2 linked regions of the Homo sapiens genome follow. The protein of the gene in region 2 purifies or fractionates together with the protein of the main gene of each other region. This does not show direct contact. Each region holds a gene or a part of one and is shown on either strand. Other genes may lie near its edges.

The links. The genes of interacting proteins can lie anywhere in the genome.
Region 1: the proteins of HSFX1 (region 2) and VCAN purify together in Homo sapiens (affinity purification with mass spectrometry; one study listed by BioGRID). This does not show direct contact.

The regions. Positions count from the first base shown.
Region 1 is NC_000005.10:83,541,244-83,544,743, reverse strand, and holds part of VCAN (versican core protein isoform 1 precursor), read right to left. Parts: coding exon 2,476-3,500; intron 1-2,475. UniProt on the Homo sapiens protein: May play a role in intercellular signaling and in connecting cells with the extracellular matrix. May take part in the regulation of cell motility, growth and differentiation. Binds hyaluronic acid.
Region 2 is NC_000023.11:149,772,906-149,776,867, reverse strand, and holds HSFX1 (heat shock transcription factor, X-linked), read right to left. Parts: upstream 2,801-3,962; 5' UTR 2,187-2,800; coding exon 1,623-2,186; intron 786-1,622; coding exon 78-785; 3' UTR 1-77.

The DNA of each region.
Region 1 (3,500 bases), on a different chromosome or scaffold from region 2:
ACCACTTGAAGCATATATTTTATATTGCAATATTGCTTGGATAAGTGTATTTTCATTGAGTTTATACTTATTCTTTGTATATTGTTTCAGACTTGCTTACATTTCTAAATCTTCAAAGATCCAAATGAGAGTTGAAAGTTTTACAAAATAATTGAAATAAAATAGATTATCTATGGAATACACCCATACTTTCAAGAATCTTAAGTCCTGAAACCCTGAAATAATTACACATGAAAGAAGAAAGATGTCTAACTTCTTATGAAACATTAGCTTAAAGAATATCAGGATAAACAAGGTACTGCTATAAAAGATAACTGAGACTTCCCCACACCAGAAAGTCAAACTCAAACTTTCTGAGTGTTAAGTAAATTCTGAATGACTATAAACCTGGATAGGTACACATTCCCATGTTTGGGATTCACGTTAAAATTAGGTTAATTCAGATGAGTACATCAACTTCTCCAAAAACTCCCCCGAGTTTTCTAAGACACTTTTTCCTATAGTTCCAAAACTATTTGAAATCTCCCTAACAATTTTAGCTTTCTGAATTTTAAAGTACAAGTACGCTCGCTGCCAGGATGACAAGGCTGCAGTTAACACACGCCATAGCCACATGCTGCCCTCTGTGCTGAATCCAAATGACACTAGGTGAAAGTGCTTTATCAGACTGTGATGTGCCACACAAATGTGAAGAAGTACTATTACTATTCCTACCACTGACACTAGACACCATGCTGAGACCATGAAACAAGGACTGAGTGAGTGAGTCTTCCTGTGAACTGGAAGTCGTTCCAATTAACAGGAAACTTCAGTTTTTATGAATGTTATTCTCCCCTAAACAGTTCGTATTAACCTCTGAAAGTTGAATCTGCAACAGATAGACCAGGTAATCCCATATGAGCTGCTGTTTACTGAATTAAGCTAAAGTGACCATTTGTTTTGCAATGAAGACGCAAACTATAAATCTTGGTAAATATTGTAAACTGGAAAATTGGTACATATTTCTCATTCATCAAACTTAACTCTATATGTACCTAGTTATTACCAGTTATTTTTACATCATATTTTTAACAAACTGAAGTATATTAAACTAAATTAAAAAACAATAAATATTAGCCAAATTACTAGATTATCATTTACAGATTTAACACACAGTGATAACAAAAAACCCAATGTCAACTACCTTTGATCAATTTTCCTCAAAATATTTCAAGCCATTTATTAAAAATTGTACTTTCTATTTTACTCTTTCTGAAGCACATCAAAATAAAGCATTGGTGGCACAAAAGGTAATATTGATATGATCAGAAGAATAATTTTAACGATAGTCATGGCATAAAACATATTAAAATAAAACATATATTCTCAACCAAGACAGACATTAAAGTACTGATTTTTCTTCCTCTTTTTGCAGGTAGCAGCTAGGTGGTGATGTCTATTTGTGGATTCCACTGACATTGTTAATTTAAATAATAACATTATGGGAAAACACCATTAGAGCTGATTTCTTAACATTCTCAGGCTAGATTAAGAGGAAAATAAATTCTACAAAGTAAATATTCCAAGATTCCTGGTTCATATATTATTCAATATCAATTGTTTATTTTTATACTATACTGAAACCAGCAAAGAGCAGTGAAAAGACTATGGACTTTAGAGTGGAGCTAAGCTGGGTTCAAATCCTACTTTTACCACAATGTGGCTGTGCCACCTTGGGCAAGTTGCTGAACCTCTCTGAACCTTCACCTCTTACCCTTTCACACAGGGCTTTTATAGCCTTTTCGTGGCAATCAGAAGAGATGGCTTATATGAATCAGTATCAAATTCATGCTTTCCATACATTCAGTAAATACACAGAAAACTTCTCTCAACAGGCAGTATGTTTATATAATAAATGACTACTCACTACTGGTAGGCACTGTGTTTGATGCATTATGTAGACTGTCTTAAACAAGGACATTGCATATAAGTATGAGCTGATATTGATACTGCACAAACTCTGAAATAATTATTAGAGCTACGTACTACTCCCAAATGTTAAAGGCCTGACAGATTTTGATACTACAGCAATAGCATCCATCAATGGGAGGGTTTTTAAAAATAGGACTTTTTTTCTACTTTTAAACCTAACATGTATAACTATGAGACATATGACAAAGCAATACTCTAGTTGTGAGTAAAAACAAATTGAATTTTTATAACATTAATAATTTCATCTTTTCCATGTTGTAATTGTATATTATTTCTAAAACCCAGAAAAATACAAAGTCTACTTCTAAAGTCCAAAACTAATCTATACTTACTGTCATTTCATCTCATTATGAACTCAATACTGTGGCCTGGCCTGCTGTTATGTGAATAATATGAAACTCTCCATTGATTTAACATCACAATAAAAATTACATACATATAAACGTTAGCACCAAGGGACTGTTTCCAGGTTTGGAAACAGATTTATCAATGTTGTGATCTTACCTGGTAAATAGATTGCCGTGCCTTCCACTGACTCTTCATTAATGCCAATCAGGAAATCTGTTTCATTAGAAGTCTCCAGAAGGGAAAATGGTGGTGTTGCAACCTCAGTATTAAATTCCACAGGGTTTACTGTTGCCTGATCATTGGAATCAAGAATTCTCGCTGCCACTTGCTGTTCTGATGCTGCTATCGTGGAATCCTGCCCTCTGATTAAAGCTGCTTGAGTTTCAGGGTTTATTTCTGGAGAAGAAGAAAGCGTGGGCCTCTCAGAAGTCTGTGGACTTAGCCAAGGCACCACACCTGCCTCGACCCCATAGGTGGCAGAAGCAGAAGTAGAGTGTGGCCACTGTGTAGCACCTTCTAATTCAATTTCATCGGCAGTTGTAATAACAGTTCCAGCCTCAGGTGTTTTAATGGTGGGAAACATCTTGATTGCTTCTCCAGAAACTTGACCATCGGTTTTGTTTTGGAAATCTTGGAGAATCTCAGTTCCTTCCACAGCAATAAGTTCTGTGGGAGAAGCTTCCATTTCTTCTAATAACTCAGGTTTACCATCATCTTCTGAAGGTTCTAATTTTGTGTCAGGAGATAAAGAGGGAGGCTCAGTTATGTGAAGGTATTCCTCACTTGATGGTTTGAAAGTCGCTTCAATATTTACATGAATTTCCTTAAAAGAATCCTGTGGGGACATTACAGATGAGCCGACGTCTATTCCTGGCAGAGCACTGGGCTGGGGGATCTCTGTGTGTCCAGAGGCTTCACTGCCTGAGTAGATAGTGAGGGGAGATGATGGTGTCTGAGAAGACAACTTCGCAAATGTTGAAACTGCTAATGTTGTATCAGTGTAATATGGGGGATTGGATCCTTCCATCACATCAGGCACCTCTGTTACACTCTGATCCATAAGGTGGGTAGTAGCAATACTTAGATAGGGAGTATGGTCTACTAATGCCTCCTCAGCTCCTGAAGAGAATTCTGGCTGAAAAGAAGGACCAGCATGTTTTTTGTCTTCATACTCCTCCTGA
Region 2 (3,962 bases):
TTTTTTGTGCAGTCAGAAAATTACTCATTTTCTGACACATTTATTGACCAGCACATATTCTGCCCAAATGCTGCCCTCTATGTGCTCTGGTCTGCGTAGTCTGGGTACGCCTGGGGCCCATCGCTAGCTGGCATGTACTGTGACGTGCGGTGGCTGTGGGGGCAATGGTGGTGCAGAGCTGGGAGATGGGGGAACATGACCATGGAGGCAGCAGGCTGTGCAGCCCCAGCAGCCACTAGGGTCACCGGTACCCAGAGATGGCAAAAGGGCAGCATGCCAGGTGCAGGAAGTCCTGTGGTGTCCATGGCAAGGGTACTACGGGACGCTGTGGGAAGGGCCACCACAGGCCCGTAAGAATTCATCTGAGTGGGAGATCCAGGGACATAGAGGAAGGGCAGCGCTGCAGGCCCAGGGACAGCGGCCACCGGAGTGACGTGAGCCTGGCTGCCCTCTGACCACTCGCCGGCCGGCTGGGTCACTGGACTGTTGTCACTCGCCACGGCGGAATCAGGCACCATCACAGGAGTTGCTGGTGGAGCAGAGCCACTCCTGATTTGGGTGTTGGGACCGGCCGGTTCCCGGTGTTGCGGTGTGACCTGGTCATTCTCATTCGGAGACGTGTGATCTTGTTGCTCAGTGTCTGCTGGTGCCAGACAGGATCCAGCAGCTTCTGGCTTGTCCTCCTCCTGATGTCTTGGTGCAGACTTGACACCCACTCTTCTCTTCATCCTCACGAGGAGGTGAGGGGAGTCTCTTTGAAAGTAAGGATGGCAGTAGAACTCTAACTATAAGTCAAAGTTTAAATAAACAAAAGGAAACTGCAAGTCACAAGGATGGACTACAACTACCAACCATCTACGCCCCTGTGCAAGAGAACTCTACTGGCCCAGGAGGCCTTTCTGGAAAAGGTCCCAGTCCCCAAAGGAAGCTGGGGACTCGCGTTCACATCGTCAAGGTTTACCAAGTTGTGGCGGGCCTTTCCGTCTTGGAAAAAGCCTCAAAATGGCAGATTAGGGTGTCCATGGCCGGCGGAAAGGGTCTTTGAAGTTGCAGACCAGGAGGGAAGAAGATTCTGGGCCTCCCCCATGCAGTGTCAGCTGGCAACAGAATGCACCCCGGCTGGGTTGGAGGCCCTGGGTACTGGCTCTTCCACACCAGGGGCCCACCTACCAAGGGCAGCAGGAGCATCTGCACCTCCTGCGCCAGGCGCCCTTCAGTGCTTCCACTTGAGCACCTCTCCAGACACCAGCTAGGGTGACAGTGGTACAAATACCAGACTCCCCTGGCCTGCTCACCTCACAGGGTAATGTGCTGTGGAGTCAGGGGGACACAGCAACCGCCAGATGACATGGCTGGCCCCGGGGAGGACGACACGCAGATACGGCTACTTGGCACCTGTGATATTTTACACACTCGAGAGGGGCCCGCACCATCCTCAGCCCTCTCCCCACATTCACTCTTAGTTCATGTCACCTCCACCCAGAGGGGGACACAGGCCCACAGCGATGGCCCCACACCCTGCCTGAGGTCGCCCACTTCCCAGGAGGCAGTCCTGGGACTTCCACCCGACCAGGCCCCAGAGCCCACCGACTTAACCCCTCCAGAGGCTTGTCGTTCATTACCTTATTCAAGATGGAGACCAGCCTTTTTGCGGAGAAAATGCGGGTGAAGGTCCTGAAAGTGCATTGACGCCGTTTTCGGAAGCCATACAAGTTTAGCTGGCGGAAGAAGCTCTTTATCGAAGTTGTGGCAAACACTTTGTGTGCGACGTCCCTTTTGAGAATCTCCTTTTCAAAGAGTTTTTGATTGATCACTCTACAAGCCCCACTGTCATCCCACCAGATGGACGAAAACTGGTTGCTGCTGACCAGTCTCCACAGTTTCTGTGGAAAGGGGAGGGAGAGGAGATTATCTTCTCCCTGGGGCGGGACGTCACCGTCAGGGTGCGGCCTTCTGAACGAAGCTTCCTCGGCCAGAGGTTGGAAAGCGATTTCTTCTGTCAGCAGCCTCAAGTTAGGGCTCCCAGTGGACCCCGGGTCGTCCCAGGCAGGGGAAGGATCTGCTGGGTGAAGGTAGGTCTCTGACTGCAACTGGGGAGGGAAAGGCACCCTTTCCAAGCCATGATCCTGTCCTCTCGAATTTCTTTCTTCACAGCGAGCCATACTCAATGATCGCTTGTCCTCCATCTGGCAAACTTGCTAGTGCAGTGTGGCCAGCAGCACCCCTTGGCAGTCATGTAACCAGCCCCATGACATCATAAAGGGGCTCTGACTGCCGGGGGGTGGCATCTCCACCCCCAGCAAGTTGTGTAATAAAGGGCCAAGGCAGACAAGTAGCTGCCCATCTGCATGTGCACATTCTGGTCCTCACAGTCATTTCAATGGGAAAGATGACACTAGTGCACAAGAGTGCCGAGGGGCCCTGCCACACCGTAGATGCAGACCTGGAGCGGTCCCCTTGTCCTAGAGCTCCTGAGCCAGGCACAACTACAGCAAAGCCCTGGCTCAGGAAGGTCAGAGCTCACCGTCTGAGTCATGGGCCCACAGACCCCAGCACATGACTGACACTCGGAAGCACAGAACAAAGGGTAGGACGGTGCCCATGGGTCAGGCTGTAGCCACGCCACCCTTTCCACCCTGTCCTAGCCAGAGGCAGCAATGTGCTCCATACAGATCCTCCTAACACACCCACACTGTCGGTCCCCAGCACGCAGATGCCCGACAGCCCCTTAGGCAAATGGCTTAGCTGACTGCCCCACCACACGCCGTCGCCATGCAGTCCAGTGGGGAGTCGGAGGCAGCCTCCTTCCTGCCTCTCCTCGGCCTGCACGTGTCCCCCCACCAGGCAGAGACCCTTCTACACCCCGGGTGTCTGCGGTCACATCGCGGTGGGGCATGCAGCTGTTGGCCTTCGAGCATGTTTTGTTTTCCTTGGCCAGTGTCTCCAGAGAAACGCACGTGGGTTTGTGTCCAGCGGTCCATCTCTGCAACAGTTGTTCCTTTGGGATTGGATGCTAGGAGGTCACGGGAGAGGTGTCCATCCAAAGCAGTGTCTGTGTCACACACTGTCCCCACACACAGGGCCACCTCTGCACAGACTCCCCCGACTCGATTCTGGGCACAGAGCTCAGTGACCTTCCAGAGACTGCCACGAACCGGTGATGCCTCCACGCTTGAGACATCCTGACCGCAGGGCCCAAGGCGCACTGGCTCAGGGGGTGACAGTGAGGGGTCTGCAAACAGACTGCTGATGCTCAACCCGGCCGCTGCCGAGCTGTGTGACTTGGGCACGTCACTTAACCTCTCTCGGCCTCTGTCTCCTCCCGGGGATAAGAGTAGTAGCACCTGCTTCCCGGGGCTGTGAGGATCCAGTGGGACGTATAGGAACTAGCGAGGCACCGGCAGTTGGGTCAGAGCTACTGTTGTCACTTCACAAGGCATTTTCTTCAACAGCAAGTCGGAAATCTCATGAGCCTAAGGCAGAATCCACCTGTGGCCTCTGGTTACAACCCACAGGACTGAAAATCCTTCCAGCCACAGCAACTGGTGAATTTCCTGGTCAATTGCCACAAGTCATGAGCTGAACCCCACTTGAGTTTCAGTTCAGGCAGAACTCTAGAGACGACTAGGGCAAGCTAGACAGCGACTGCAGAGCCTTTTGTTGCAGCGTGAGCAGTCCTCAGCTGTTGACATCACTGGGGAGCAAACGAGGACCAGGAGCGGTGAAAGGACAGTGTCTGCTGCAGATTGTCGTAGCACCCAAGGAACACTCCAGAAAGCCTCCTAAGCAGTAACAAGTGTGGCAAGGTGTAGCCCAGCCAACAGTGGCATCTGCGAGGCGTCCCCTCCTTCCTCCCACTACCCCGTATACCCTGGGACCTGTGCACTGAAGGACTCATTCTAAAGGCTGTGCCCCTGCAGCCGCCAGCCTCACTCACTGGCTGCCTGTGCCAGCTAGAGATT